Linked DNA regions of Homo sapiens. The protein of the gene in region 4 interacts with the protein of the main gene of each other region in a pairwise test. Each region holds a gene or a part of one and is shown on either strand. Other genes may lie near its edges.

Region 1 (5,117 bases), on a different chromosome or scaffold from region 4:
ACTTGAATACGGAGACCCAATCCATGTAGGATTGATGATTCAGTTCAACCTCTCATCTAGAGCCACATATTCTAGAACTCGAACCATTCTATCCTCCACCTTCCCCAGTCTCCCTCTGAACTCTCAACTTAAAGCCTAGACCCGATACTTTAACAAGAATGATAGAATCCAGAGTCAAGGCCTACCTTGTCTCAGAACTGGGTGGTTATATTAGAGTCATGAACACAGCAACCTCTCCCCGCCAACATCAATCTAAGCTCGAATGTTTTCCTTATCTGCACACCTCACCATCCCACTGCACACATCCCAGGCACTGACGTGCCATCTCAGTTATTCCTTCTTTGCATTACCTGCCTTCTTCACTTTCTAAGGTTCCTGACACTCTTTTCCTAATCTTAGTGTGACCACATGTCCTGGTTTTCCCAGTATGGTCCCAGCTGGTTTATACCTTTAGTCCTAGAGTGAGTCCTAGGTAGTCCTTTTTACCATCAGACATGTCTTGGGTTGGTTGATAAATTACATAATCTATTTATGCTACTCTTTGGTTTTCCTTATGTCCTCCCACCTAGCTCCCCTACACAATCTTCTCTAACCTCTTTGAGGCCTCGGCAGAATCTTTCAAACACTCTCTTCATGTTACCACCCTTCTCCATGGAGATCACCCGTGTATGATCCTCCTCATTCACCCAGATCAGGAAGCTCTTCTCATTGTTGTGCCTGAGGGCCGGAGAGGGACAGTGATCAAGAGGCAAGGCAAGAATTGGGAGAGATAGAGGGAAAAAAAGCATTTATGAGGGCATGAAGACAAAAGAGGTAATGAGCAGCTTCATACCAAATTCCACGAGCATCTGGCCAGTCTCGAGCCATTCCTGCTGCAGTCAGCAACGGGGACACAGGCTTATCAAACAGAAAGTGGTCCTGGGAAGAGTAACGGGACTTGGGTTAAGAATCTTCATGGTGGCCCCTGGGCCTTTCAGAGCCCATGTCTCATCTGGCCCAGCCTTCCCCATCTGCTCCCACCAACCAGCACCCTCTTAAGGCCCTCACATCAATAAGCTGCTGCTGTTCAGCCTCTGTCATCTCACTGAGCCTATAGTAACGTCCAGCCAGGTCACCCTTCAGGCCACTCAGTGCATCCACCACAACACGTTCCACCTCTCGTCGCTCTGCTCGAGTGCAAGCTGGAGGCAGACTGAGTCCTCGGATGCTTCGGCCAGTTCTGACTCTAGAGGACAATACATACCTCTCATCAAAGTAGCCAGAACGGATCTGGGAGATAAGGGAAATGAATGTAAGTCACAGAAACACGGTGGGAACTGAGGGCCCCTGGGAAAGGAGAGACCTTCCTTAGGCATTAGAGGACTCTTTGTGCATTCTTCCTGCATGCATTGGAAGAAGAGGCCCTTTGGGAAAGCACTGGAATTGAAGGGGGCATTGCAGACCTTTCCCCAAACCACCCACCTTGGGTCATGGTCATTCTTATCTATCCTTCCATCTCCATATATGCTGCCCCTTAAGATATGATTCTTTCCTTACATTAAGATTAAAAGCTCAGCTGTATAATGACCATGAGTCAGGAAATAAGGTGAAGGGGTTGGAGATACAGAGTGTTGTACACAGGCAATGCAAATCAGAAGTGGGATATTTGAACTCACTTTACTGGCATCTAGATCCGTGGTGTGCTTCATTGTCCGGGGGTCATATCCATTGTGTCGCTCTTGGATCACAGGGTCAAACAGGTCAGCAAATACCTAAGGGGAGTTAAGAGGGAGAGATGGTTAAGGAGAGGGAATCCCTCCCCAGACTTCAATTGTGCATTGATTTCACTGGTTCAGAAAACTTAAGTATGGGGGGCTCAGAGTCTTGGGGGAAAGTGAGAGGTCTTTAGGGGAAAGGAGCTGGGATTACTGGGAAGATGAATTGGATCATCAGGGAGACTCTGGGGACCCCCTACCTCATAGGTCTCCTCATCTCCAGCCACCATGCCCACAGTCTTGATGAAGGGGTGGCCAGGGTTGTCCACGCCAGTCTGGATACACTGATCTAGCGTCCAACCAGTGGGTGTGGTCTTGTCGCAGAGCCGTGCATAGACTGCTGGGGTCAGGTGACTGGCCATGCAGTTGTTGTGCTTTCGGAGGTCTGGGTACTCAGCGCTGGGGAGGGGGTACCCAGTAACCATGGAGGGAGGGCACAGACGCCTAGACCTAGTGCAGTTACCTGGGAGCTGTCCAGTTGGCCATGTCTGGCTTTGCTCCGCGGGAGGAGGGGGAATTAGAAAGAGGGTAAACCTTGGTAATCTCTTTAGGGACTTTCAGAGTCTATGCTTTCCTAATAGTTCTAGTTGCCTCTGGCTGGCCAGCTCAGTTTCTTCAGATCTGCTCAGTTCTTTCCTCCCATGACACAACACTACGGATGGAGGAGGGGAAAAGCCTAAGGAGAGGAATTGAGGAAATGAGGGAAGGAGATGGAGGGGAGCGAAAAGGATAGTTCCTGGCTTTACAATTAGGGATTTGGGCAGCCAGTGCAGCTAGAACTCGTAGGGCCAGAGCTGGTCTTGGCAGGTCCCCAGGAATGTTCTTGCTTTATGGTTTTGGCCCCCACCCCCACCCCACTGAGGTCTGCAGACTGCACAGCCCTCCAGCTCCAGGGCCTTCGTGATTATAGCCCTTCTCTGTTGCCCGGATTCTCACTTCTACCCGCACCTTCGTTCCCATCACCTCCTGCCCCCGCCTCCTCCCGCGCCTCAGGCACTGTTACCTCGGGGGATACAGCCTCCGTCGTTCACTGGCAGCTCGTACAGGTTCCGGTCGGAGCAGAAACCCAGCGGCTAGAGACCCCGCTCCGGCCAAAGCCAGGAGCCTGAGTCCCGGGCGGGCGGACAGCAGACGGGAGAAGGGACCAGCCATGGCTTGAGGTCTGGCTACGGGATCCTGGAGTAGGCGCTGGCGCAAGATAAGATCCGGAACAGGGAGGGAGGATGCAACCGGATAGACCGAGGGCCGGAGCTAGGTCCGAGGCTGCAGCCGAAATGGGGGTCGGATTGGAGGCTGGAGCCGGAATGGGAGCCGGTGCCAATCAGACTGCAGGAGAGGCGCAATGAGCTAGTGGCAGGCGGGCGGGCGGAGGAGAGGGAGGCCCCAGCCGCAGTCTCCAGGGGTGGGGCTCCCCCAGGCCCCGCCTTCCCGCCTGCCACCGCGCTAGGTGCGCGAGGGCAGGGGTGGGCAGCACCCGCCAGGTAATTAGCGGGACCTGAGACTCGCGCGTCTAAAGCCGGGGATGTAGCCCCCTCCCGCCCCGGGGATGTGGCCGCCCAGATTTCAGCACCAAGTGGAGGACAGCACCCACGTGGACTAGCTGAACCCAACACCCTTCCCCCACACCCCTCGGTTTAAGCTGAAACTCGATCCGTCTACCCTGTGGGTGTGCAAGGGTGACACTGCCCAACCTTTCCTCTGCTTTCGGCCTGCCCCAGCCACCTCTTCGGTCTCCCGGGGGCAGCCGCGGGGAAACCGCGGAATAAACACAGATACCAGAGGAGGATATGGAGAAAGCACAGGGTTAGAGGCAGGCACTGGGAAAGACACCCACTGGCTCAAGGTCACCTTTTCCTTAGAACCAGGAAGAGGAGCAAGGTGCTTCCTTGCCACCTCTGTGCACGCCTTACAAAGTTGAGAAAGGACTCCCTGGGAGGAACCAAGGAAATATTAATTCTTATGCCATCTGTGCTGTGTCCTCCACCTCCATTCTGCACCCAAGTCTGAAGCCCTGTTATTTCCTGCCTCTGCTTCTCATGATCCCCCACTTTTTGTTTTCCTTTTGTCTCTCCCACTTTCCTCCACGTCCCCTACCTCACCTTTGATCTTTTACTTCTCTGCGTCTTTTCCAGGCTCAGATGTGTTTGCTGCTCACAGGATGCCCTCTGCGTTTTCTCGGCAAGCTTGCCCACCTGTTGGTGGTGCTGGGTGTGGGGGTGGGCAGGGAATCGTTAGTTTCCTCCTCCTCCTCTCCCTTGGCTTCTCTCTCCGTAGTTCCTAGTTCCTGTGCTGGAGGAGAAGGTAAAGTGAGGTGAAGGGTGTGGTGAGATGACTGGGTGTGGGACTGGAACAGGCAGGCACAGGTCTCCAGACACCACATGTGTTTCCTCTCTTGTCTCCCTAATGCTGTTTAATCCAGAGAGTAAAGGCGAGTGGTGTACAAAGGCATGAGGTGGTCAGGGAATCTCTGCCTTCCTCGTGGTCCCCTCTGCTGCTCTCTCTCTCCTCGTGAAACACATATTCAGATTTGAGAGGGCTTTGTTTCCCAGCTCCAGGTATGATTTGACCTTTGTCCTGGTAGCAAGGAGAATGAATGCTAGAGTTGAAATAGAGATGAGGGGCTTCAGCGTGGAGGGTCAGTTAAGGTGGAGTAGCACCGTGGCATTAGTCCCTTCCCTCTGCTATCCTGGTGTACCCACAAGACAGATACTTGGAAATCTTAACAGAGAGTATTTGGGAAAGAGAATTCCCTTTACATAGAAAATTCCCCCATATTACTCTCATTCCCTTCATTCTCCTTAGGCCTTCCTTGTGTCCTTTTATTCTACCTTTGTCATTTGTGGGTATTCTTAGAAGTGTCCACTTCTCTCTTGGGTCCATCCCTTCTTCTTCTGGTAAGACATCAATTATTAGAGAACAGAGTTATGCAGCTGTAGTGTGGAAAATGTTACCTGTGTTGTGGGGCCTCTTTACCTAGGTTGAAAAGTAGCCATGAGTAAATAAATATAATTTCTTAGAATAGCGTGTATTTATCCAGATAAATAGGGAGATAATCTTCCAGAGCAGTAGGGTTGCTATTTGATTGAGAGGGTGTTACTAAGGAATAGGAAGTGGGAAGAGATAATTACCGAAGGAGAAATAAGACAGCCAGAGGAGTAGAGAAATTACCCAAGTTTAGAGAGTAGCTTCCCAAATGTGAACAATAATTCCACTGAGAAAACACATGTACTTATGCACTTTTCTTATCCCTTGTGTGCCTTTTACAAGCACATAATATATTAATGCTCATTTAAAAAATTATTTTGCAGCATATGGAAGTAATCAATATATGGTATTGTTATATGGTATTTCATTTATTTAATA
Region 2 (4,349 bases), on a different chromosome or scaffold from region 4:
CTGCTCGCCGTCTGCCTGGCATCCCTTCCTTTGGGGAGTTGCCCTTCACCATTTCATTTCATACGGTCCTAGCGGGGCTGTCAGTCACAATGACTGACTGCCCCCACCACCCACTCACACACACGCAGGGGTGGGTCCATGAGCCTGCCCTGCAAATGGAGGCACCTCACCTCCTTGGTCAAGGGAATTGGTCCAGGATACGCATGTGGCCAAGGAGAATTGGCTGTTCTGAGATTTGCTCTGTGGATGAAGCCAGGAAGATGTGGGCCGGAGCCCAGCAGTGCTATTTCAGAACTTCTAGCCTTTGTGAGGATACAACAAACACAGAGAGAAGCAGAGCCGTGACAATGATATTTGAGCTCCTGGACTCAGCTATTCCTGGAGCTTGGCTCTTGGACTTCTCAGGCTTTTTTTTTTTTTTTTTTTTTTTTTTTTTTTTTGAGACACTGTCCTGCTCTGTTTCCCAGGCTGGAGTGCAGTGGCACGATCTCAACTCACTCCAACCTCTGCCTCCTGGGTTCAAGCAATTCTCCTACCTCAGCCTCCAGAGTAGCTGGGATTACAGGCATACACCACCAGACCTGGCTAATTTTTTGTATTTTTAGTAGAGATGGGGTTTTGCCATGTTGGCCTGGCTAGTCTTGAACTCCTGGCCTCAAGTGATCTGTCCACCTCGGCCTCCCAAGTGCTGAGATTACAGGTGTGAGCCACCGCGCCTGGCCTGATGTCTCAGTTTTATGGGCTAATACATTCCATTTGGGACTATAAATTGAGTTTCTGTCACTTGCAATTATCAAGAGTTCTCAGTAATATTTTGGGAGACTTTTCCAAAGTCACTTAGCAACCCAAAGGTGCACCGGGGGCAGGAACACAAAATTCAATACCCATGTTCCTTTCAGAATAAACTGCTCTGAGGCCGGGCACAGTGGCCCATGCCTGTAATCCCAGCACTTTGGAAGGGCGAGGTAGATGGATCACTTGAGGTCAGGAGTTTGAGACCAGCCTGGCCAACATGGTGAAACCCCCTCTCTACTAAAAAATACAAAAATTAGCCAGGAATGGTGGCATGCATCTGTAATTCCAGCTACTCAGGAGGCTGAGGCAGGAGAATTGCTTGATCCCAGGAGGCAGAGGTTGCAGTGAGCTGAGATCATGTCACTGCACACCAGCCTGGGCGACAGAGCAAGCCTCTGTCTCAAGGGGAAAAAAAAAAAAAGTATATATATATATATATATATATATATATATATATAGATTTATAAGTAAATAGTAATTTGATTTATAATGAAGAGGATTAATACTAGTTTTATTAACTTCATGATGCCCCCCACATGCCGGATGCTGTCAGCCAGGTGGGAACGAGAGTGGCACGTATAGGCCTCTTACCTTCCTCTCCGCTGTCCCCCCGGTCGCCGTCGTGTCCATCTTGGCCGTCTTTGCCAGGAAAGCCCATTCGTCCCATCATTCCTGAGGGCCCTGGGGCTCCTGGGGGGCCGGGTGGGCCCTGGGGGCCAGGCAGGCTGCAGACCAGTTGAGGGGAGCCTTTCCGGAAGTCCCTGCGAGCAAAGGCGCCAAGCAGTGGGTCAGCAGCACAGGGGAGGGCACAGGCCAGGAGCACCCAGGGGATCATGGTGGTTACCTGTGGGAGGCAAGAGAGCTGTGACAGGTGAGTGTGGCCACCAAGCTGACCTGGGGCTGGTCAGAGGGGATGCACAGGAGGAGGCAGCTGGGATACACTCAGTTGGATTTCTGTCTCTTGCTCTTTCCTGCATCACATACAAGTAGATGTGATGTGGACAGAGTCGTCATATCTTGAGGACATATTTGGGTGAGTGGAGTCATTACCCAGAATACACTTCGAAGGGGTCTCGGGGGTGAGGCATTCATCATCAGACCATCATCTTCCAGAGTGGCTGAAATGGATGCAGAACTTATGACCCAGAGACTGATGACTGGGAGGAGCTGTGAATGGAGAGAAATGATCCATGGTTTCATCCAAATCTGTGGCATGAATAGAAAGTTACAGTTCTACAAGGGTAATGTTTGAATTGTAGGTGACTTTGCAACTAGTCTGCTTCTCATGGGAGACTCAGGGTTGCACATGAGGAGGGCTGAGGATTCAGTTACTGAGTGGAGGTCAACCATCACCTGAGTGACCCTGGCAGGCCGTGGTAGCAGCTCCTCCCCCAAGCGCTTCCTGTGCGCCAGGCATGTGCTAAGAGCTTTCCATTCATTACTTGATCTTCACAATACCCTTATAGAATAGATACAGGAGAAGAAGCGGAGGCTCAGAGAAGTTGAGCAATGTGTCTACATCACGCTTTTCCAACCCGGGGCCTGTGGGCCGCATGCACCCCAGGATGGCTTTGAATGCAGCCCAACACAAGTTTTGTAAACTTTCTTAAAACATCATGAGATATTTCTTGCGATTTTTTTTTAAGCTCATCACCTATCGTTAGTGTATTTTATGTGTGGCCCAAGACAATTCTTCTTCCAATGTGGCACAGGGAAGCCAAAAGATTGGACACTCCTGGTCTACATCATGCGATGAGTAGATGGCAGGGCTAAGGTTTGAACCAGGCTGTCCAGATCCAGAGCCTGTGCCCTCCTGTCCCAGGCTAGACCGTGTCCTTAAGGCTGATGGCAGCAATAGCACGATCCCACTGGAGATCAGTGTGCTATGCACCTGGAGGTATCTACTCCCTGCCCTCACTATGCATACGCAGAAACTGAGACCCAGAGCAGAAATAAGCAACTTGCCCAAGATCTCTCAACAAATCAGTTCCTTTGCTTTGTAATTAACAGCCTCTCTCTCAAGAATGAAACCAGGAGGGGGAACATCCCAGGCATGACTTCCTGCCATGGCGATTAACTATAAAATGGCAACTTGCTTTGTGACCTTAGGCAAACCCTTTTCCCTCTCTGGGCCTCAGTTTCCTCACCTGAACAACAGGGGCTGGGCTAGAGCAGTGGTTCCTAAACTTCAGTGCGCATCACACTCACCTCGAGGGCTTGTTAGCACACAGGTTGTTGGGCCTTATCCCCAAAGTTTCTGATTCATTAGTTCTGGGGTGAAGCTGGACCATTTGCATTTCTAATAAGTTTCCAAGGGATGCTGCTGATGGTGGTCCAGAGACCTTGTTTTGGGAACCACTAGAGTAGATGGTCTCTAGGGTCTCTTCTAGCTCCAATGCTGAGCCTTTCAGACTTCAATCTGTTCTCTTTCCAGATACAAAGCACTGTGGGCTTTGTAGTCCTCACTCAGCCTGTGGCTATCCAATCAGAGCGTTTAAGTATTAGGGGGATCCTCGGCAGCTGTGGTCCTGGTTGCACAGCAGGGGCATTACTCAGGCATTGACCTTTGGAACTCATTTTTCCTTCTGGGCTTTCAATCCCCTTTCCCTTCAGACTCTGCTTGGCCCCTGGCTCTTGGAGCCTGTCCAGGCTTTTCGGCTGCCTCTGGCTGTTCCCCTCAGAAACAGGCTGACCATACCTCTCCTCCTGCCCCCTCCAGGATCTTTAACCCTGGAAACAGATGCTGAGGGGAAGGCCTAGACTTGCAGAGAAAGGAAAATGTTCATTGCCCACATCCCAGCAGTGTGACAATCACAGGGCCCAAAATGGTTACTCCCAAAGAGCCTGCAAAAGGCCCCCATGGAAAAGACAGCTTTAAATGTCTGCCAGGCACAGAGACACAGAGCAGTCTAGGCCCGCCCCAGTCGTGAAACATCTAGAAATCCTCCTCCTGTCCCTGTACCTCCCCTCCCTTCAACTTGGAAACAGGTGAGCTGACAAGGGGAGCAGATGGCCTTGCCCGTTTCACACCTTCACTGGGGGAGCAGGAAGAAATCTCACCTTCGAATGGAAATTGAGGTGTGGGTTGCCTGGGAGTGGAGACTTCAACCAGGGGGAGGAGGAGCTCCCCTCACTGACTAAATTATAAGTAGGGAGGGGTAGGCAAAAATAAGGATGCAGTTTGATTGTATTTCTGATGTCACACTTGCTCAACCTAGGTTGGATAAATAATAGTAGAGATGGTAGGCAGGTACGGCAAACATCATGGAAATGTTACATGAATGACAGGTGCTTTTGGAAAACTATGGCCTAGACACTCCCCAGGCCCTGTGAATCACCATTTCTTTCCCTGTCTACGTTAGGAGAGTCTTGGAAAACTGGTTGGCCTTATTTGTGAGCTGCAGCACATCTGGGACCCCCAGAATAGAAACTGAATTTTTAAAGCAGGTTCGAAATGATTTGGAAAGTTGCAGTCTACAACCATTTTGCAGTAGGGAGAGAAGGAGGGAGTAAGTGGAAGCGAGTCTTCGAGGCAGATGAGAATCCTGCAAACA
Region 3 (4,349 bases), on a different chromosome or scaffold from region 4:
TCGGGTATATGCTTCTGAAATAAAAGACTTTCTTCGACCAGCTCAACTGTTATGCAACACACCTATCACTAAGATCTGTACTTCCAGTGAGGATTCTGCAGGTACAGCTCACTTACTTGGTGTTGTAATAATGGATCCCTGTCTATTTTATGCTTTTTCCTACTCCCCAGGGAGCAGCCTATTCCAACTTTCACTTTTTAGTTTTTGTGATAATAGTAAGTCAATATAATAAGGCCAACTTCTGCCAAATATCTTTCAACTATTAAAAATGTAACTGCTTGTATATGGGAAAACTTGAATATACTTTATTTCTTCAACTTTGATACACATTTAGTTCTTTTAAACACCAGCTAACTCATTATTCCAAATTAAAAATAACTAATAAAATATTGGAAAAAAAGAAATAAAAGCAAAGTTTGGGAGAAAGCCATCCATGGATAAAAGCTGAACAATTAAACCTAAAATTTTTTTTTATAATAAAAGGTTATGAAAGAGCATTAAAAAAAATTTACAGCTCAAAGGGAAGGAAAAAAATAGGAAAATCTCCAGAAATTCTAATAAAATACGTTCCTCTATTCAAAAACCAAAGGAAACTGGCAATTGTTTCCATTTCTAGACATTCTGCTACAACATTAAAGCATTAATATCTGCTAAGTTAGTTCTATAAAAAATAAGATCAATAAAAATGGATGTTGTGTGTGTAAGTATGTTTACCCTCCAATTAAAGTAAACGTCTTCTAAAAAGTTTGAATGTTGTTAGTATTCACTTCTCAAAGAATTATCTACATATATTTCACTAAATGTCCCCAAAATGCATTTTTAACAAAAGAAATTCACATTGTGTGAACAAATGGCAATTTTTACCTGCAGACTGTACATACAGAACTATAACTTCTCATCAGAATAATTTCTAGGATCATACTGTATAGACTCAAATTAAGAAACCAAAGTAAGAAATAGTCCATGACCTCTTATGTGGCAAATAGACAGATGTGTTTTTTTTGTTTGTTGTTTTGAGACAGAGTCTCACTCTGCTGCCCAGGTTGGACAGTGCAGTGGTGCAATCATAACTCACTGCAGCCTCAAACTCCTGGGCTCAGAGAATCCTCCCACCTCAGCCTCCTGAGTAGCTGGGATGAGCGCATACCACCACACCCTGCTAATTTTTAAAATTCTTTTGTAGAGACAGGGTCTCACTCTATTGCCCAGACTGGTCTCAAAGTCCTGGCCTCAAGCAACCCTCATTGCCTAGACCTCCCAAAGTGCTGGGATTACAGGTGGGAGCCATCACACCTGGCCTAAGATCTAATTTCTACAGATGCAGTTTTCTAGTTCTCAACCAAAATTCCTGACTCTGCTCCTCTCATCCCCCCCACAGACACACAGAGTGAGGTTTAAGGCCAGCCCCCTGCTGTGAGCAGGTACCAAGGACACAGGGAATGAAGCCATTGGGGCTGGCTGGAGGGAAAGTTCAATGAACATGAATGAGACAATGGTACACCTAACTTAATTTCTCTGTTTCATGCCAATAGTAGCATGTCTTTTTCCCCCTACTTTTACCCATTATCTCCTTTGTCTTCACAGGAACCCCAGAGTTTGGCAATTTAGTATTATTCCCACTTCAAAGACTAAAACCTGAGATGTGAATTTAATAAAGCTTCTTGCTCTGATCATTGAGTTTGCAAATGGCACAAAGATGGTTCCTTCCACATCCTCTCCAGCTTCAACCCCATACATTTTCACAATTTCAAATTTTCAGCTAATAATCTAGACAAGTTAACCCTACAGCATCTGCTTCCCTATCAACTTGTAAAGGAATCACTGCTTCTATCAGAAGTCCTAAGTAGCATTAGCATATGCCAGAGAAATGTTACGATGACAGCATCTTAGTGGTTCCCAACACTTTGAGAAGTCTTAGTGTCATTTCAGCAGTCACTTCCAACCTTTTCCCTGTCATTACACAAACAGAACATGATGACATGTGTACAGCCCACTGGGGTGAGTGGATGGAGCTGCTCAAGGCCAGGGCTGACCAGCCAGGAGGCGCCAGCAGCTTCTGCCCAGCCCCTCTGGGGACGGGGGGACGAGGCACTCAGCACTCTCATAACCTGCGTGCTGTGCTGTAGAGGCTCATCAGCTGGCATATTCAGTTTTACAGTTCTAAAACCCACCAGAGATTCCCAGTGTGCCAGACAAAAGAGCATGTAAACGAGAGAAGTAATAAAAAAATGACAATGTAAACCTCAAGGTCTATTTCTTACAGATGGTGGGGATTTTCTTTTCCTAACACTGACTTTGGACAAGTCTACTGGGTGCCCTGTCAAACGTGTGAATACACTACACCCCGGATCTGCTAGGTATCATGGTAGGAGTTCCCCTCAATTACCAACAGAGAATGTATTTAATAGTTTACTACTGCAAATCTACCACTGCTACAAGAAAAACTCTAAAAAGCTCCACAAAAATAATGACTATATAAAGTCTTCTCATACATTAAAGATTATAGCTTGTTTTAGTAGTCAGGACTTAAATTAAGACTTGAGTTTTTTTTTCTTGGTATTGCTACTTTTTAAAGGAAAAACAAAGAATATATCTAAAATCTTAATACCTTATTTGGATAAACACATTATTTAATATCACATATATTCCAGTACCTAAGTAGCTCTTTTTAAAGTCAGAAAACTAAAATTATGAATCTCTTCAACAACATGACTGCTGTCAATATATTTGTTCAATTACTTTGAGGACCTAGGGTAGCAGAGTTTACAAAACTCACTTTACTTCATATTATAATTACATGGGAAATTGATTTAGACAACTTCCATGGACAATTTATACTTCAGAAAGGACAGGAATATCACATTATTCCAGTACCTAAGGGGCTAGCTTAGGATATGTGATATCCCTAACCTTTCTCCTCCTTTTTCTTTTCTTTCTAGCTCTTGCTTTTTACGTATCAAACACTCTTCTTTTGGGAAAAAAACTAGTGCTTTAATCAGAGCAAAAAGCACAGAATTAACGGTCCATTAAAATGCACAAGACTGAATGTGAATGTATCTGTTTATTTAGAGCTTTCAGTGTGTAAAATTTCAAATAAAATTATCTATCCAATTGCTACAGTTTAAAAAATTAAATCATTTTTCCATTCTCTTTTAGGAAAAACTGTAGCACAAATTAACAGAGTAGAGAGTAGTGAAACATTGAAAACATACTTTAGAAAACTCTCAGATTAGTAAGAATAGTATGTAATTGTGGGTAACAAAAGCCAACAAGAATGAAATACAGACATTTATGTTCGCATGCATCATAAAGACAACAAAAACAATGTTTTACTAGAGATTAATATAAACATGTAAATAGGAAAAATTCTCCTTTTTACCCCAAAATTTTCTTCTATATTCGGCAGTCAAAATTTTTACTTTTCAAAATTATATGACAGCTGTCAATACAAAGATCTCACTTTTTAACATATACTTTCATTCTATGATACAGTTTAGGTATTAATGATGCATTTTAAAATGGAACAATTTAATGCCAAAACCTGAGTTGCTTCAATATAACTAGAGAAGACTTAAAGCTAGCACTGTATCATATCGAATTGCAGCATACATACTGTATTGCCCCGTGCTAGTCTGATATATGCTAGTTGGTACTGCCATGGTAGCAATACTAGGTGGTGTTCCTTCTTCCTCTGATCTCTCTTCTTCAATCTTGGGAACACCAGGCACATCAGAGGACAGTTCATTCAGTATTTTCCTAAAATACAATTTAACAAGGTAAGTCACTAAGATACATGAATAAGTCTTAAAACAGAAAAGCTATAAAGGAAGAATTGATTTGATGTATAATTATTCTACCATTTTGGAAAAAGTATCTTTACATTAGGAAACTTGGTTAACTTACCTATAAGAGGGTCTTCGTGAAAGGATTTCTCTACGTTTATGAGAATCAATTACACCTTCTGATTCTGCAGATTCATCTGTCTCTGCAATTGCTGCTACCTATAATACAAGATTTTCTGAAATGTATCATAAAATATATGCTCTTTTCCCTCATTCAAAAAATTGAGGCTAAGAGTCTGTGTGTGCAGCACTGAGCCAGGAGCTGTGGAAGCAACTGAGCAATAGAACACAGTGAATCTGCACTGAAGGAGTCTGGCTCAAGAAAGGAAGCGCAGACGCAAACATTTCAGTTATAAAACAAATGTGTGTGGAAAGGAATGTTACGGGTACTCTATACTACAGAAATACTAGGGAAAGAGTGGTTGGGATGTCAAATGAGGCATTGCAGGAAAGAACAAAATGTAAAATACCCAAGACCTAAGCTCCTCAACCTGAAAGTGCTCCTAC
Region 4 (4,804 bases):
AAGAAAGGATGAGGAGCTATTCCAGATTAAAGGGGGCTAAAGAGACATGAGAACTAGATGCAATGCATGACCCCAGGTCAGGGCCAAAAATGCTATAAAGAACATTATGGAGACAGTTGGCAAAATTGGAATATGGTTGGTAGATTAGATAATAGCATTGTTTCTATGTTAAATATCCTGGCTTTGGTAATCATATTATGGGTTATGTAAGAGAATGTGCTTATTTTTAGGAAATATATCCTAATGTATCCAGGGGTAAAGGGCCAATGTTCAGAACAGCAAGAAAATGTTACACACTAGTGTGCACACACGCACACACACACTGATAATGATGAAGCAACTGTGGGAAAATGTTAATTGGTGAATCTGGGTAGAGGGTATAGGGGAGTTTTCTCAACTTTTCTTTAAATGGGAAATATTTCCTAAAAACAATTTTTAAAATGGGATTGCAAGAATATCCCCTGCCACCACATGCCTACGAGGTCTGCTGAGAGGATCAAAAGGGGTGGTGGGTGCAAGCTGCCGGGCCCTGTGCCTGGCATTCTGAGGGGCCCAGGGGCCCACCTGCACGATCTCCAGCATCTCCTCCCGGCTGATGTAGCCGTTGCCGTCCAGGTCATACATGCTGAAGGCCCACATGAGCTTCTGCTCCAGGCGGCCGCGCGAGGTCACGCTCAGCGCAATGATGAACTCCCGAAAGTCTATGGTGCCATCGCTGTTGGTGTCAAAGGTGCGGAAGACGTGCTCGGCAAACTTGGAGGCGTCACCATAGGGAAAGAAGTTGGCGTAGATCTTCTTGAACTCATCCACATTGAGGATTCCTGTGGGGCAGTCCTTGAGGAAGCCCTTGTACCACTCCTGCAGCTCCAGCTCTGAGAACTCTGTGTTCTCTCGCAGGTCCTGCAACATCTCGGGCCGCAGCTTGCTGTTCTGCTTGCCCATGGCCGCCGAGCCAAGTCCCACCTGGGTCCCCAAGGGGGTCAAGGGCAGAGAGGAGTGATCAGGCCCTCCTGGCTACTAGACACTGCTCCAGATGGGCCCCCCTGCCAACAGCCATCCCTGCCTCTTGTTTGGCCCAGTGAAAGAGAGGAACTGGCCCAAGGTCACACAGCCTAGACCCAGGCATCCTGTATCTATGCCATGCTCCACACCATCTCCCTGGACCATACGCTTTCCTGGGAGAGGGAGGAAGGGAAGGGTGGTTCACATTTACTGAGGCCCTTCTAGGTGCCAGCCACTAAGCCTTCACAAATGCACACCAATTCACTTTCGCAACAGGTTGTATGGGGATTTGCCCCATTTTACAGATGAGAAGGCAGGCTTACAGACGTGAGGTGGCTGCTTCAGGTCACACAGCCATGGCATTATGAGGCTGACTCCTAGAGTTGCCCACAGAGGTGCAGAAAAACCTTCTGATCCTCCTCCGTCCTACCCACTGCCTTCTCATTGCCTCACATGTGCCTGCTCAGCACTGAATATACCCGCAGCCCAGACACTGCCCTGTTCTCCCTCTGACAGGTGTGCCCAACAAGAGGCAGCAGAGGGAGGTGTTACTGTGGGCTCCAGAGTCAGATCACCTAGGTTTGAATCCCAGCTCCTCCTCTTACCAGCTATGTGACCTTGGGCAAGTTCCTTAAACTCTCTCTGCCTTATCTTTAAAGTGGGGTAATAACAGTACTTACCTAAGAGGATTGTTTTGGGGATTAAATTAGTTAATATGTGTGAAGCACTTAGAACCATGGCTGCATAGATAAGTGCTACATAAATGTTAAATAAATAAAAATGACTTACATATACCCAGGTGCCACAAAACTCATGCAAAAACTGTGCAAATGAATGTATACCGATAACTGTATGCTTCATAGCTCACCAGATCCACACCCTGGATCCCATGCCACTCACGTACCAGCCCACGCCCACCCATGGGTCAGCATGCCTCCACACATGACGACATTCCCTCTGCTCCACAACTCACACGAATCGACACATGGCACCACGCACAACTCCCATACCCTGTGCATCAAGACACACCAGCCCACGACCCCACATGTCTCACACATGCCATCACACGCCAACTCGCATGCCGACACCTCTCACATGGCCAGCTGCACGTGGGACCTTCAGGCACCCTTGCCATTTTTCTTTGTTTTCCTTCTGTTTTCCCAGGGGTGCTGCCAGGTCCCAGGAGAGGGAGCTGCAAACCTTCCCAGACCTGCTCGGGGCCCCTTTTCCAAGGAGACCCCCCACCAAGCCCATCCAAGCCTCCCCAACACTTACCCTTCATCTAGTCCTGAAAGGTCCCCTGAGTGCAGGTTAGATTGTGGAGGCTGAGTAGAAGGCAATGAAGAGGAAACAGCCAGCCAGTTCTGCACAAGGATGTAGGCGTGTGTGCAGGTGACCCCCACCCACTTAGGGCAAGGAGGGGCCTCCTTGTGCATACATGTGCATGAAGCTCTGCACACATGTGAATGGGTGTGTTGTGAGTGCATGTGCTCATGCATGATGTGTGCCGCTGGTTTTTGCATTGCATTTGCCTGCCGTGTCTTTCCATCTATGTCCCTGCATGTGCCTCAGATGTGCATGTGATCAGGTATGCACCCGTCACAGCGTGAGGGAATGAGCCCGTGTGGCCATTTGGAGGACCCGTGTGTGTCCTCGGCGGTGTGTCACATGCATGTTTCTGTAAGTTGGTGCCCCTCCTTTCTAGACCAGCCTCTTATGGCCCAGGCTAAGGACCCACCGGACAAGTGAGTGGGAAAGGGCTAAGGAAATGAGAAGGGCTGGGGCATGTCCCGCACTGCCCTCCTCAAGGTCCAAGGAACTGGGTCACCGGGGTGGGGGCAGAGAGATGCGCGGAGCAAGAGAGCTCCTCCAGTGCCCCCTGGGCCCTGCCACCCTCGGAGTTGCCCCTCCCGGTTGCAAGAAGATTCAGCTGCCCGCAAAGACCTCCAGTCCCCCATATGGGAAGAACCCCCTCAGCTCGACCTGAGAAGCCAGCCCCGGGGACCCGCTCCAAACCTCCCTCAGCTCTGTCCCCCAGCCCCCGCCTCCATCCGCTCAGCACTAGGACAGCGCCCGGCGCGTGGCCCCTCCTGGAGGGGGCGCTCCAGGGCGGTCGAACGCGGTTCCTAGGGGCCGGCCACTCGGCGGTCAGGACCCTGGAGAGCACCGCGCGCTTCCCAGTCCCCAGCGCCCCCGCCACCCGGGGCAAGGATTCCCGGGAAGCCCGGGAGCGGCGGTGTTGGGAAGCCCTGGACGTGGGCCCCCAGCTCCGGGAACCCCCTGCCCTCATCCCCCGGCCCCGGCTGGAGCTGCCCCCACTCACCCAGCGACGCGGAGACACCGACTGCGCAGGGAAGGCGGCGCTGCTGCGGCGCGCGCGGCAGGGGCGGCAGGAGGGGCGGGCGGGACTGCGAGGGAGACGCCCCGCAGCGCTCACCCGGAGCCCCTCCCCTGGGGGGGTCCCCGCCAGCCCTGGGGGCTGGGGAGCGGCGCGCTGGGCTCCGCCCCCCACCCCCGCCCCGGAGAGAAGGGGACGCCCTCAGTTCCCCGGTCCCCCTCGAGGGAGCACCCTGCCCGGGGAGGAGGATCGCGGCGCCCCTCTCCTCGGCACCTCGGCTCTGGTGGCCGGAATGGAGGGACACGGTAGTGCCAAGAGGTCTCTCTCCTGAGCCGGGGGCGATCCCAGGCCACTCCGCCCCGCTTCCTTCCCCATACCCACCTGGGCTCTGAGCCGCACGTCGCTTCGAGGGCCGAATTGGCACCCTGGGCACCCTCCCTGCTCCTGCGCCTCAACTCCCAACTAACGGAGCTGGGAGCGTGGAGCGCCCATTCCTCCAGCTACTGAGGTCTTCGGGGTAGGGGACCAGACACGCCCCCTTCCCCACCTCCACCTTGGCGAGCCGGCCCCCATGTCAAACCCACCACTCCAGACCTCACCCCGACCCCCCTCTCAGAATTAATCCCACCTCCCAACTTTGGTGTCAGCTGCTCCTCCCACTCCCCCTTCCAATCAAGGAAACCCCCTCCCTTCCTCCCTCCCCAGCCTCTGATTGTGCAGGCCATGACAGGAGGGCAGAACATCTGCCTGGGGATCCTGTGGCACCTACCCACTGCCTGCCGACCGCACAGCTCCTCTCCAGAGTCGATGACCCCTAGCCCAGCTCCTCCTGCCCCCAGCCTCAGCAACATTCTCCGCATGCTGGGCTGAGATTTTGTCCTTTTTCCATTTCTAGGGGTTGGTCCTTATTGTCCCCATGAAGAAATGGGCTCAAAGGGGTTAAGTGATTTTTCCAGTGTGTGCGCCCTCATCCATTCATTCCACAAATACATATAAAACACTAGTTCTGCGGCCAGCATTGTTCTGTCTAGATAGTGGGACTACAGGCGCAGACAATAAACAATGGACACAATATACATGTCGATATTAGACATGTGTTTTTAAACGTTGGGATTTGGGTGTGGCAGTTAGAATGGTAACTGCCATTGGGGCCATCCAGGGCCTTGGGGCCTATGACAATGACTTTAGGCTTTTTATTCCAGATGAGATGGGAAGTCCTGGGGGGCTTTGAGCAGAGTGAGAGGGTGTGACCTCCATGTGGACAGCTTCCTTGGGTTATTATGTCAAGAAGAGACTTTGAGGAGTTGGGGGCAAGGTGGGAGAAGGGGCCATTTCAGGCTGAGAGATGGCCGGGGTGGGTCTGGTTTCTGGATTTACTTCGCAGGTAAAGCCGGCAGCATTTGCCATCTGCCCAGAGGGCCCTTCCCAGCCCAGAGTTTCTTCAGCATCGGCAGCTCAGCCCCT
Region 5 (5,089 bases), on a different chromosome or scaffold from region 4:
GAGGAGGCAAAGCTGCCATCAACAGAATCCTGCTAGGGTGTCCCACAGCACCAGGGCTGTGGGCTGCCCGGCTTCAGTAGGCTCAGCATCTGTGGCTGAGTCCCCAGTGAGGATGCCCCAAGTCTCACCTCTAGTGTTAGAGTCGGCTCCTGCCCCACCCCACATGACAGGCACTGGCTTCCACCCTGGACACCCAGGATGACGGGGGACAGGCTGGCATCCAGCCACCGATTGGGGACCACGCTGATCTCTTCACCTGTGGGAAAGAGGCCAGATGCAGGGCCCTGGATGCCTTTCCCTCCTTCTTCCCCTGTCCTGGGCTCTAGGGCACAGGACTGCTGTAAGACGGCCTGCCCCCAGGCTGGGCAGAAGGGAGGCTTCTCAGCAGCTGTCATGACATGGCTTCTCCTGTCCACTGGCTCAGAGTGGACATCAAGGCATGGAAGCACATTGTACCACCTCCACTCCACCCTCTAGTTCAGGGTCAAATCTTCAAGCCTCTACACCCCAAAATAGATTCAACCCCCTCCTTTAATGTCCCTTGGGTCTCAGGCCTTTTTCTGAACCCTGTCTTGATAAGCCCCCCTTTGGAATTGTTTGGACAACTTTCTACACCCTGTGATGTTGCTGAGAGCAAAAGAGGGTCTCATTCCTCTCTGTACATCCCCTCACCACCCACATACATCAGATACATACATACACAGATACATGCATGCACACATATACATATACACACACATGCTCATACCTACATACCTGCACTCACACATACATGGTTACACACAGATACATGCATGCACACATGCTCACACATATATGCCTGCATGCACACATACATACACCAGTAAGCACACACATACACATATGGCCTAGCTGAAGGATCTACCTGGCATCTGTGCTCAGCAAGGGTGCCCCAGGTGGGCAGGTGCAAACTATTTTAGAGAGGGACGTGTTGCAGTGCATGGGGCAGAGTGAGCAAGCAGGAGGTCCAACAATGCCACCTGTTCTCTGGGTCCCTCCACTCTAAGTGACTGAGGATCTTCAGAGAGCAGAGGGGACCCAGGGTGGAGAGGCAGAAACCCACTCCCATATGGGAAAAAAGGTATAGAGAATCTACGTTAGTTCTCTCCTTGGTACTTACTGGCTCCCAGGGAATGCAATGCTTGACCTAAATCTACCTGTAAGGGAATGACAAGACAAGCCTCTTGGAAAACATTCCCACTTCTGCATAGAAGCTTCAGGTGGCCCCAGAGCCTGTGTCTTCACTTTGCTGAGAGGTGTAGTATTTTATTTGCCTTTGCTTAGAGCCTGGTTTGTGCTGCCCCAATGCCTGGGCTCTGTAGGCCTATGCTAATCTGTATGACTATTCTAAGCCCTCTTCAGGCCCCCTCCCCTGAGAGTGTATAGAGACCAAGGAAAGTGGGTCATGTTTCATCACCAACCTTTAATGACCTTCCCTGCATGCAGCCCTCCAGCTAGAAGCTGGTTATTATGCAGATAAAGCACCTTCAATGCCGAGTCCTTCATTCTGAAACATCAGGAAGGGGTGAGGACTACATTAGGAGGAGGGTGGACACTCCAGCATGCCCTGGATCCAGAGAACCCCCTGATCTCAGGCATTTTGTCTCTCTTTCTTCCTACTGTGCCAGAAGTAACAGCACAGCCTTGTCTCCCAGCCCTGCTGGGCTCATGCCCTACAAGGAGGATGACCCCACAGTCTCCCACTGGAGTCTGTGGTTTGCTCCTTCACCCTATTCAACCTTTTCTGCCCCAACCCATCTCCTGCTGGAAGAGAAGCTGCACGGTGAGTCAGAGCCCTAGGTTCTTGCCCCATCTCTGCCTCCAATGCTGCTGAGTCGCAGGAGACAACTCTCTCGCCCACTCTGGGCCTGAGCCTCCCCATTGCTACACTAAGATGATGGGTTGGATAACATCCAGGCCTCTTCCACGTTAAAGCCTGATTCTTCAATTCTTCAAGATACATGTATTTCTATTTGGTCATATATTCCTTACTAAGTGAGGAGTTTCTTTAAATTTAAATTTCTTTTATTTAACTTTTCAAAGTTGTTTCTCATCTTTGAACTCAGTTGATTTCCTGGCATCCTATGAGGTGGAAGATGTATCCTAAAGTGGGTTTCTCCAAAAGTTATATGGGGGAAAAGGATGCAGTGTAAAAATTGGGTCGATGCATGGCTAAATACAATTCAACAAGTTGCCTTACTTCAGAAAACCTCAGAGTCACTCATATGCTGAGCTGGGCTGTGGTTCTCTTATGAGAGGATGTAGAAAGCAGAATTCCCTGCATTTACTTGATCAGAGAGCTCCACTGTGTAAAGCATCTCCTGGATGCCTCTGTGGGACTCCTCTAATCGAGTCCCATAGAACACATCATGGGAAGTGCTTTATTAGACTGAGAGAAAGGACCACTCTCATCCTCTGTTGTAAAGCCCAGAACACGGCAGAGTGTCTGGCTTGGTACATGCCAGTGGGTGGACAGACTGACTGATGGTAATGGTTTTTGTTTTATTATTATCCCCAAAGAGTAGCAGGGAGGCAGGGGCACAGAGTGGGTGAGCTTACATCCATTCACTGTGATGGGGGACAATGGCGGAGCTCTGAGCAGGGATCCTGGCCCCCGTTCCCACCTTGGATAGACTTGGCTGGAGCTCTAGACTGGGAGGTTCACTTATCCCCCTCAGCATCAGGGACCCCTTGTGAGATGGCCTGCCCCAGTCCTGCCCCTATTTGAAAAAGGCTGGGAAAACTCTAAGAGCAGTGAGGTGCTGGTCACAATTTCCCAGCTGCAATGGCAGCCCCTCCCTTCCTCCCTCCTGCTCAGAGCTGGACAACGGGTCTATCCAGAACTCACTTCCTCCGGAGGACACCACCAAACCAGGGCCTCATACACTCACCGGAAGCACAGCGCCCCACTCAGGACCATCTTGAGCTCCACAGGGTGTAGACTCCCCTATTTTGGAATAAACAACAGAAAATCATGGAGAGAGAGGCTGAGTTGGCTGGGGTCTGGGGAGCAAGCAGCTGCACCGAGCTCCCCAGCATGTGAACAGCCTCCACGGAGCAGATTCTGGGTCTGGGGTCAGGAGAGAGCTCCGGTACCACCAGCGCCCCAGAGCATACCTCAGAATGTTCCTTTCTCCTGGCGGGAGCTGTGGAGTCTGCCTGTTCCTCCAAGGATGCCTCAGCCTTTTAAGTAAGGCCTAGGGAGGGGCCCTGAAACTGCCAGGACCTGAGGAGGAGCAGGATTCCCAGCGTGATTTCACATCACCCTAAGTCGCCAGAAGCACTTGCTGCTCATTATCTGTCGTGGGGAGGGAAGCTTCTGGAGACAGTTTCCTTCCAGAAATATTGAAGAACTTCCTTGAGGCTTTCCAGCTCTTTGTGAGCACTAGGCTTTTGCATCTCAGGGGCTTTCAGACCCTAAGAGTCAGTGCCCATGGCAGCTCAAGGGAAGCGCGACTTTCTTTCCTCCCTGCCTCCCTCCCTTTCTTCCTTCTTTCCATCTTTCATTCACTCACTCCCTCCCTTTTCCCTTCCTTTCTTCCCTCCCTCTTTCCTTCCTTTCCTTCTTTCCCTTCCCATTTCCTCCCTTCCTCCCCTATTCCCTTTCTTCCTTACCTTTTTCACTCCTTCCTTCACTCCTTCCCTTCTCCCTCCTTCCTTCCTCTGTCTTTCCTGCCTGCCATTGCCAGGCCTACAGGAGATGTTAGAGGTGGGACTCTCCTGCTTAGGGAATGTTCAGCCTACATGTTCATTGTAGAAAAACCTGAAAATCCAGATCAGCCACAAGAAAAAATGTGAATACTTGTCTTTTCTGAGTGCATCATCAGAAAACCAATGACAACACTATTTCCTCCACACACATACACATGTAACTATAGACAGCTTTCATACAACAGATTCACAAAACCTATACTTTTTCCAACCTCATTTTTTCATGTGGCAAAATAGCAAAATATCTTTCCATACTAAATATGAATAATGACATGCTTCAATAGCTGTATAGTATTTAACTGTATCACTGTAACATTATTTATTGAAACCTATCCACTGTTATTTGTCTTTTATATATTTTTCTCTCTTTTTTTGCTATTGAAAACCATGTTGTGACAAACATCTTTGTATTAACATCTTTGCTCATGTATCTGGTTATTTCTTTAGAAAGTAAAATCTAGCTCATGCCATCTATAATTCTGTAAGTGATCTTTCTTGAATACCTAATTGATAAGATAATACTTAATTGTGAAACAGTTAATGCAGTTTAAATACCTCCATGCACTCTCTGTGATGGATCTGAAATAAAGGTAAGGGTCAGTGCACAAAAAACAATTTAATTATATCTTGAATAACACAGATAACTATTTATTAATAATTTATTGTTAAAGCATACACTTTTTTTTTAAGTTTTATTTTTCTTTTTTCTTTTATTATTATTATTATACTTTAAGTTTTAGGATACATGTGTACAATGTGCAGGTTTGTTACATATGTGTACATGTTAAAGCGTACATTTTAAAGAAATGGTATTCAGACATATGAGCCAAGAGGTCCTACAAGTGTTCAAGAATAAATAAAATATCAAGTTGTTCAAAACACAGAAAATAATCTACGATTTTCATAATGCCACTAATATGATAGACACTTTTCAGAAAAATAAAATTAATGTAGAAACTGCCTTGTACAAAATTATTAAATTACAAATTGACCAAATGGAATGACAGTAGAAATAAGATGAAATGAGACAAGCCTGGCCAACGTGGCAAAACCCCATCTCTACTGAAAACACAAAAATTAGCCGGGTTGGTGGTGCACATTTGTAATCCAAGCTACTCAGGAGGCTGAGGTGTGAGAATTGCTTGAACCTGGGAGGTGGAGGTTGCAGTGAGCCAAGATTGAGCCACTGTACTCCAGCCTGGATGACAGAGAGAGCTAGACTCTGCCTCAATAAATAAATAAATAATAAGTAAAATGAAACTATGACTGTGTATACTGTCAATATTATATGAAAACATTATCAAACAGGCCTCACCAACAATAAGTTCTCTCTGGACCTATCCCTTTGCTTGACTTA
Region 6 (4,349 bases), on a different chromosome or scaffold from region 4:
TATTCATGTGCTGCCTGCTTAAATTTTATATAGCTAGGGGATGGGGAAAGAAAATAAGTAAAACAAGATTGGCATGTATTGATGACTAGTGAATCTAGTGATGATAAATGAATTCATTTTATTTATTGTATTCATTTATTTGTCCTAATTTTGAATGTTTGAAGATTCCCACAATAAAAAACACAAATACATAAATAGCATACGTATGCCACCTGATTTTATGGACTAGATGAAAACTAGCTCTCTCCTTTGCAATGTAAACTTTGAATAAATCGGACAAACTAAGCTTGTTCCAGAATCATTTTATTCTTCTCGGTTTATCTGGATAAAGATCTCTAAATGTGCTACTTGAGTGTGTGTGCGCACGTGCGCGCGCGCACACACACACACACACGACTTTACTGCTAAACATCCCTTAGGCCTTATCCCTGACCATCTAACTGTATAGGTTCTGCATTAAAGAATTTACATTAGCATAGAGATGCTGCCTCAAACTGGAGTCGCCTGTAAGTTAGAACTCATTTTCCCTTTGAGCCATTCCATATTCTTAGCACCACTGAATATTTAATAAGTTTCCACGGGGTACATGATATTCTGCCCACCTGGTTGACGGTTGCAGCACAAACACTTTTCATCTCATCTGTCCTCAGGTAGAGAATTATAGATAGTTGCTCAGAATAACAGTGAATCAAAAGCAATGCCAAAAACACAAGTTGGTGCCAGCTAAACATTCTGTAAAGTAGATACTACTAACTTTAGACAATATTTATTTTTCTATATTTTTGAGGAAGGGTCTGTCTTTGTCACTCAGGCTATAATGCAGTGGTGCAATCATAGCTCACTACAGCCTTAAACTCCTGGGCTCAAGGGATTCTCCCACCTCGGCCTCCCAAGTACCTGGAATTACAGGCATGCACCACCACGTCCAACAAAATTTTTTTTTTTTTTTTTGAGACAAGAGTCTCGCTCCGTCACCCAGGCTGGAATGCAGTGGCACGACCTCGGCTCACTGCAAGCTCCGCCTCCTGGGTTCACACCATTCTCCTGCCTCGGCCTCCTGAGTAGCTGGGACGATAGGCGCCTGCCACCACGCCCGGCTAATTTTTTGTATTTTTAGTAGAGACGGGGATTCACCGCGTTAGCCAGGATGGTCCTGATTTCCTGACTTCGTGATCCACCCACCTCGGCCTCCCAAAGTGCTGGGATTACAGGCATGAGCCACTGCACCCGGCCCCACCGAATTTTTTAAAAAAATTTTTGTAGAGACAGGGTCTCAGTTTGTTGCCCAGGCTGGTCTCAAACTCTTGGCTTCAAGTGATCCTTCTGCCTCAGCCTCCCAAAGTGCTAGGATTATAGGCATATGAGCCAACATGCCTAGCCAACTAATTTCTTTATGTAATTTTTAAAAAGGGGGCTGGGTGTGATGGCTCATGCCTGTAATCCCAGCACTTTGGGAGGTCAAGGCAGGTGCATCACCTGAGTCAAGAGTTTGAGACCAGCCTGGCCAACATGGTGCAACGTCGTCTCTACTAAAAATACAAAAATTAGCCGGGCATGGTAGTGGGCACCTGTAATCCCAGTTACTAAGGAGGCTGAGGCAGGAGGAGAATCGCTTGAACCCAGAAGGTAGAGGTTCCAGTGAGCCGAGATCATGCCACTGCACTCCAGACTGGGCGACAGAGTGACACTCCATCTCAAAAAAAAATAAAAAATAAATAAAAGGTACCATATGGTGTTACTTAGGGGAAATAAAAGGCAGGGTTGAATCTTCTAGTACTGGTGGTGATGCTCTGTCAGAAGTCATGGTTAAAGCATCTGCACTTCCACACCCACACCGACGCCCACCCTTATGCCTAGGTTGAAAGATTTCTAATGGTAGTTACTACCATAAAAACCTTAAAAAATTATGACTTGCTTCATCCTGTGGATTTAATACTAATCTTGAAGGATAATAAACAGAAGCCAAGGCTACCTGTAAAATAAAATGAACCAAACAAAATGTCAAAGCAGAGAAGTGAACAGGTAATTTACAAATGAGAGACAGCATCTATGTCCAGCCAAATTCTAATTCTCCATTTAAAGTTCACTAAGAAAATATTCAGGCCAAGCACAGTAATTCACTGAGGAAGGCCAAGGTGGGAGGATTGCTTGAGGCCAGGAATTCATGACCAACCTGGGCAACATAGCAAGACCCCATCTCCATAAAAAATAAGGCTGGGTGCGGTGGCTCACACATGTAATCCCAACACTTTGGGAGGCCATGTCAGGTGGATCACGAGGTCAGGAGATCAAGACCATCCTGGCTAACACGGTGAAGCCCCGTCTCTACTAAAAAATACAAAAAATTAGCCAGGCGTGGTGGCAGGCGCCTGTAGTCCCAGCTACTCAAAAGGCTGAGGCAGGACAATGGCATGAACCTGGAAGGCGGAGCTTGCAGTGAGCTGAGATCACGCCACTGCACTCCAGCCTGGGCGACAAGGCAAGACTCTGTCTCAAAAAAAAAAAAAAAATTAGCGGGATGTGGTGGCATGTGCCTGCAGTCCTAGATGCTCAGGAGGCTGAGGTAGGAGTGCTTGAACCCAGGAGTTCAAAGTTACAGTGAGCTATGACTGCACCACTGCACTCCAGCTTGGCCACAGAGCAAGATCCTATCTGTAAAAAATAAATAAATAGATAGATAAATAATTTTTAAAAGGGAATATTCAAAGGTTATCCACTGATTAACTCTTAGTGTTATGCACCTTTCAGTAAACATTGCATTAGACCAAAAAGGTAGCACTTTAAAGAAAGTGGCTATTTTCCTCCATCTTCCTGGCAACAATATTTAATGACCCATCCAATATATTCAATTAGTACCCAATTCAAATGAGCTTTAGTTATTACTGGAGTCAAACATATCACTTGGGACTTGACCTTCTTCATTATATAAGCAAAGTTTAAAATGTCAATAAGGAAAAGGTCCCAAAACTTTAAGGTGTTAAGCTATGTTCTGGCTGCTAAACATTTACAACATAACCAAGTTGGCTAAAAATAATCTTGCCCTAGAAATTCCCCTATAGAGAAATGCATGATAATAATTAGGTAATAAAGATCATTTTCATTCAGTTTCTAGTCCCACACCACCAGAAAATACCACAAATATTGATCTGAAGAAAATAATCTTAAATATATATAAATTTACGGCCAAACCTCCTGAAGAAAATGATGAAAGTTTTCATCATGGGCAATATGGGCAAATATGAGCATAAGTACAATACAAAGATTTGCTTTAAGATCCCTGCATTTTAGTACTTGGTTCTCACCTCAAAAACACCTAGGATATGAAATATACAATCTGTGAGACACACAAAGTCATGTTTCCCATAGCTACCCCATAACCCAGTATTCCAAAGACAAGGTTCATATTAAACACGCTTTAACAAGGGACTCATTTTAAATACTGCTCTCTTTGTAAAAGCAGAAGCTTATTACCATTGGATTTGAATCTGCTATGAGATCCCGTAGAGAATCCAGAAATCCCTGATCTTCCACCATTTGGGCATTGATATCATGGAGTTTTGCCACGCAGACTGCTGCTGTTTTCCGAACATAGGGATCCTCATCCTTCAAGCACTTGCGGAGCGGCTCACAGAGATATTCTGTAATTTTGTCTACCCGGATGCACCCCATGGTTCTGACTGCCAAGGCTCGAATCAAAGGATTAGGATCTTCACAGTCCTGCAGAAAACAATCACCAACAACTGTAGGTATACATGGTGGCTAAAAGTAAACAGTCCAGTTTATGTAAGCTGCAAAAGAATTACCTCATTAATTTAAGCTTCCAGATACATTCTACATGAGCTCCAATCTTCCATGCTATTCCTTTCCTAAGTACAAATCTTAGCTGCCCTATTTAAGAGTTTAGGTGAAGAAGTCATTTAACTGTTTTAAATACAAAATGAGAAACAGCTCAGCAGGATTCACTCTAGTGCCAGGCAGAGGTTTAGGGAGTTCGTACCATCCCACAGCCATTAGGATCTACCCTAAAAACAGGAAAAGCTTTTGGGCTTGTATTCCGGCACAGGAAAAAAAAAAAAAAAAAAAAGAGGAGCTGTAAAGACCGTGCCCTACTCCACAGTGAGTTCCTAAACATCAAATAGAAAAGAGAGCTAGATTTCTGTGGCCTGCAGCCAAGAAAACAAAGGGGAGCACAGGAGCTGGTCTGGGCTTGAAATAAGTACCTGGAGTTAAGCAGCAGAGAAGGCCCTCTGAGCTCTTGGCTAACATACATTCTCTTTTACTAGCAAGTGCTTCCAAATATAGTAAATAGAATATGGAGAAAGAACACTCTTTTAAACTGCCTTACACTA

What was found.
Region 1: the proteins of HPCA (region 4) and CKMT1A interact in binary tests that used the Homo sapiens proteins (3 or more experiments, as listed by UniProt).
Region 2: the proteins of HPCA (region 4) and C1QTNF2 interact in binary tests that used the Homo sapiens proteins (3 or more experiments, as listed by UniProt).
Region 3: the proteins of HPCA (region 4) and CREM interact in binary tests that used the Homo sapiens proteins (3 or more experiments, as listed by UniProt).
Region 5: the proteins of HPCA (region 4) and IL36RN interact in binary tests that used the Homo sapiens proteins (3 or more experiments, as listed by UniProt).
Region 6: the proteins of HPCA (region 4) and AP2B1 interact in a two-hybrid assay, tested with the Homo sapiens proteins (one study listed by BioGRID).

What each region holds. Positions count from the first base shown.
Region 1 is NC_000015.10:43,691,840-43,696,956, reverse strand, and holds the start of CKMT1A (creatine kinase U-type, mitochondrial isoform 1 precursor), read right to left. Parts: upstream 3,099-5,117; 5' UTR 2,907-3,098; coding exon 2,758-2,906; intron 2,431-2,757; exon of another isoform or gene 2,247-2,430; coding exon of another isoform or gene 2,154-2,246; coding exon 1,955-2,153; intron 1,752-1,954; coding exon 1,656-1,751; intron 1,270-1,655; coding exon 1,048-1,269; exon of another isoform or gene 1,047-1,047; intron 919-1,046; coding exon 833-918; exon of another isoform or gene 829-832; intron 718-828; coding exon 594-717; intron 1-593. UniProt on the Homo sapiens protein: Reversibly catalyzes the transfer of phosphate between ATP and various phosphogens (e.g. creatine phosphate).
Region 2 is NC_000005.10:160,353,382-160,357,730, forward strand, and holds part of C1QTNF2 (complement C1q tumor necrosis factor-related protein 2 isoform 1 precursor), read right to left. Parts: intron 1,963-4,349; exon of another isoform or gene 1,891-1,962; coding exon of another isoform or gene 1,846-1,890; intron 1,640-1,845; coding exon of another isoform or gene 1,631-1,639; coding exon 1,387-1,630; intron 1-1,386. UniProt on the Homo sapiens protein: Involved in the regulation of lipid metabolism in adipose tissue and liver.
Region 3 is NC_000010.11:35,178,541-35,182,889, reverse strand, and holds part of CREM (cAMP-responsive element modulator), read right to left. Parts: intron 4,019-4,349; exon of another isoform or gene 4,002-4,018; coding exon 3,904-4,001; intron 3,757-3,903; coding exon 3,614-3,756; coding exon of another isoform or gene 3,561-3,613; exon of another isoform or gene 3,043-3,560; intron 1-3,042.
Region 4 is NC_000001.11:32,885,037-32,889,840, reverse strand, and holds the start of HPCA (neuron-specific calcium-binding protein hippocalcin), read right to left. Parts: upstream 3,351-4,804; 5' UTR 3,326-3,350; intron 2,344-3,325; exon of another isoform or gene 2,278-2,343; intron 964-2,277; 5' UTR 943-963; coding exon 565-942; intron 1-564. UniProt on the Homo sapiens protein: Calcium-binding protein that may play a role in the regulation of voltage-dependent calcium channels. May also play a role in cyclic-nucleotide-mediated signaling through the regulation of adenylate and guanylate cyclases.
Region 5 is NC_000002.12:113,057,291-113,062,379, reverse strand, and holds the start of IL36RN (interleukin-36 receptor antagonist protein), read right to left. Parts: upstream 3,183-5,089; 5' UTR 3,139-3,182; intron 2,969-3,138; 5' UTR 2,942-2,968; coding exon 2,913-2,941; intron 1,529-2,912; coding exon 1,443-1,528; intron 257-1,442; coding exon 129-256; intron 1-128. UniProt on the Homo sapiens protein: Inhibits the activity of interleukin-36 (IL36A,IL36B and IL36G) by binding to receptor IL1RL2 and preventing its association with the coreceptor IL1RAP for signaling.
Region 6 is NC_000017.11:35,607,510-35,611,858, reverse strand, and holds part of AP2B1 (AP-2 complex subunit beta), read right to left. Parts: intron 3,718-4,349; coding exon 3,472-3,717; intron 1-3,471. UniProt on the Homo sapiens protein: Component of the adaptor protein complex 2 (AP-2). Adaptor protein complexes function in protein transport via transport vesicles in different membrane traffic pathways.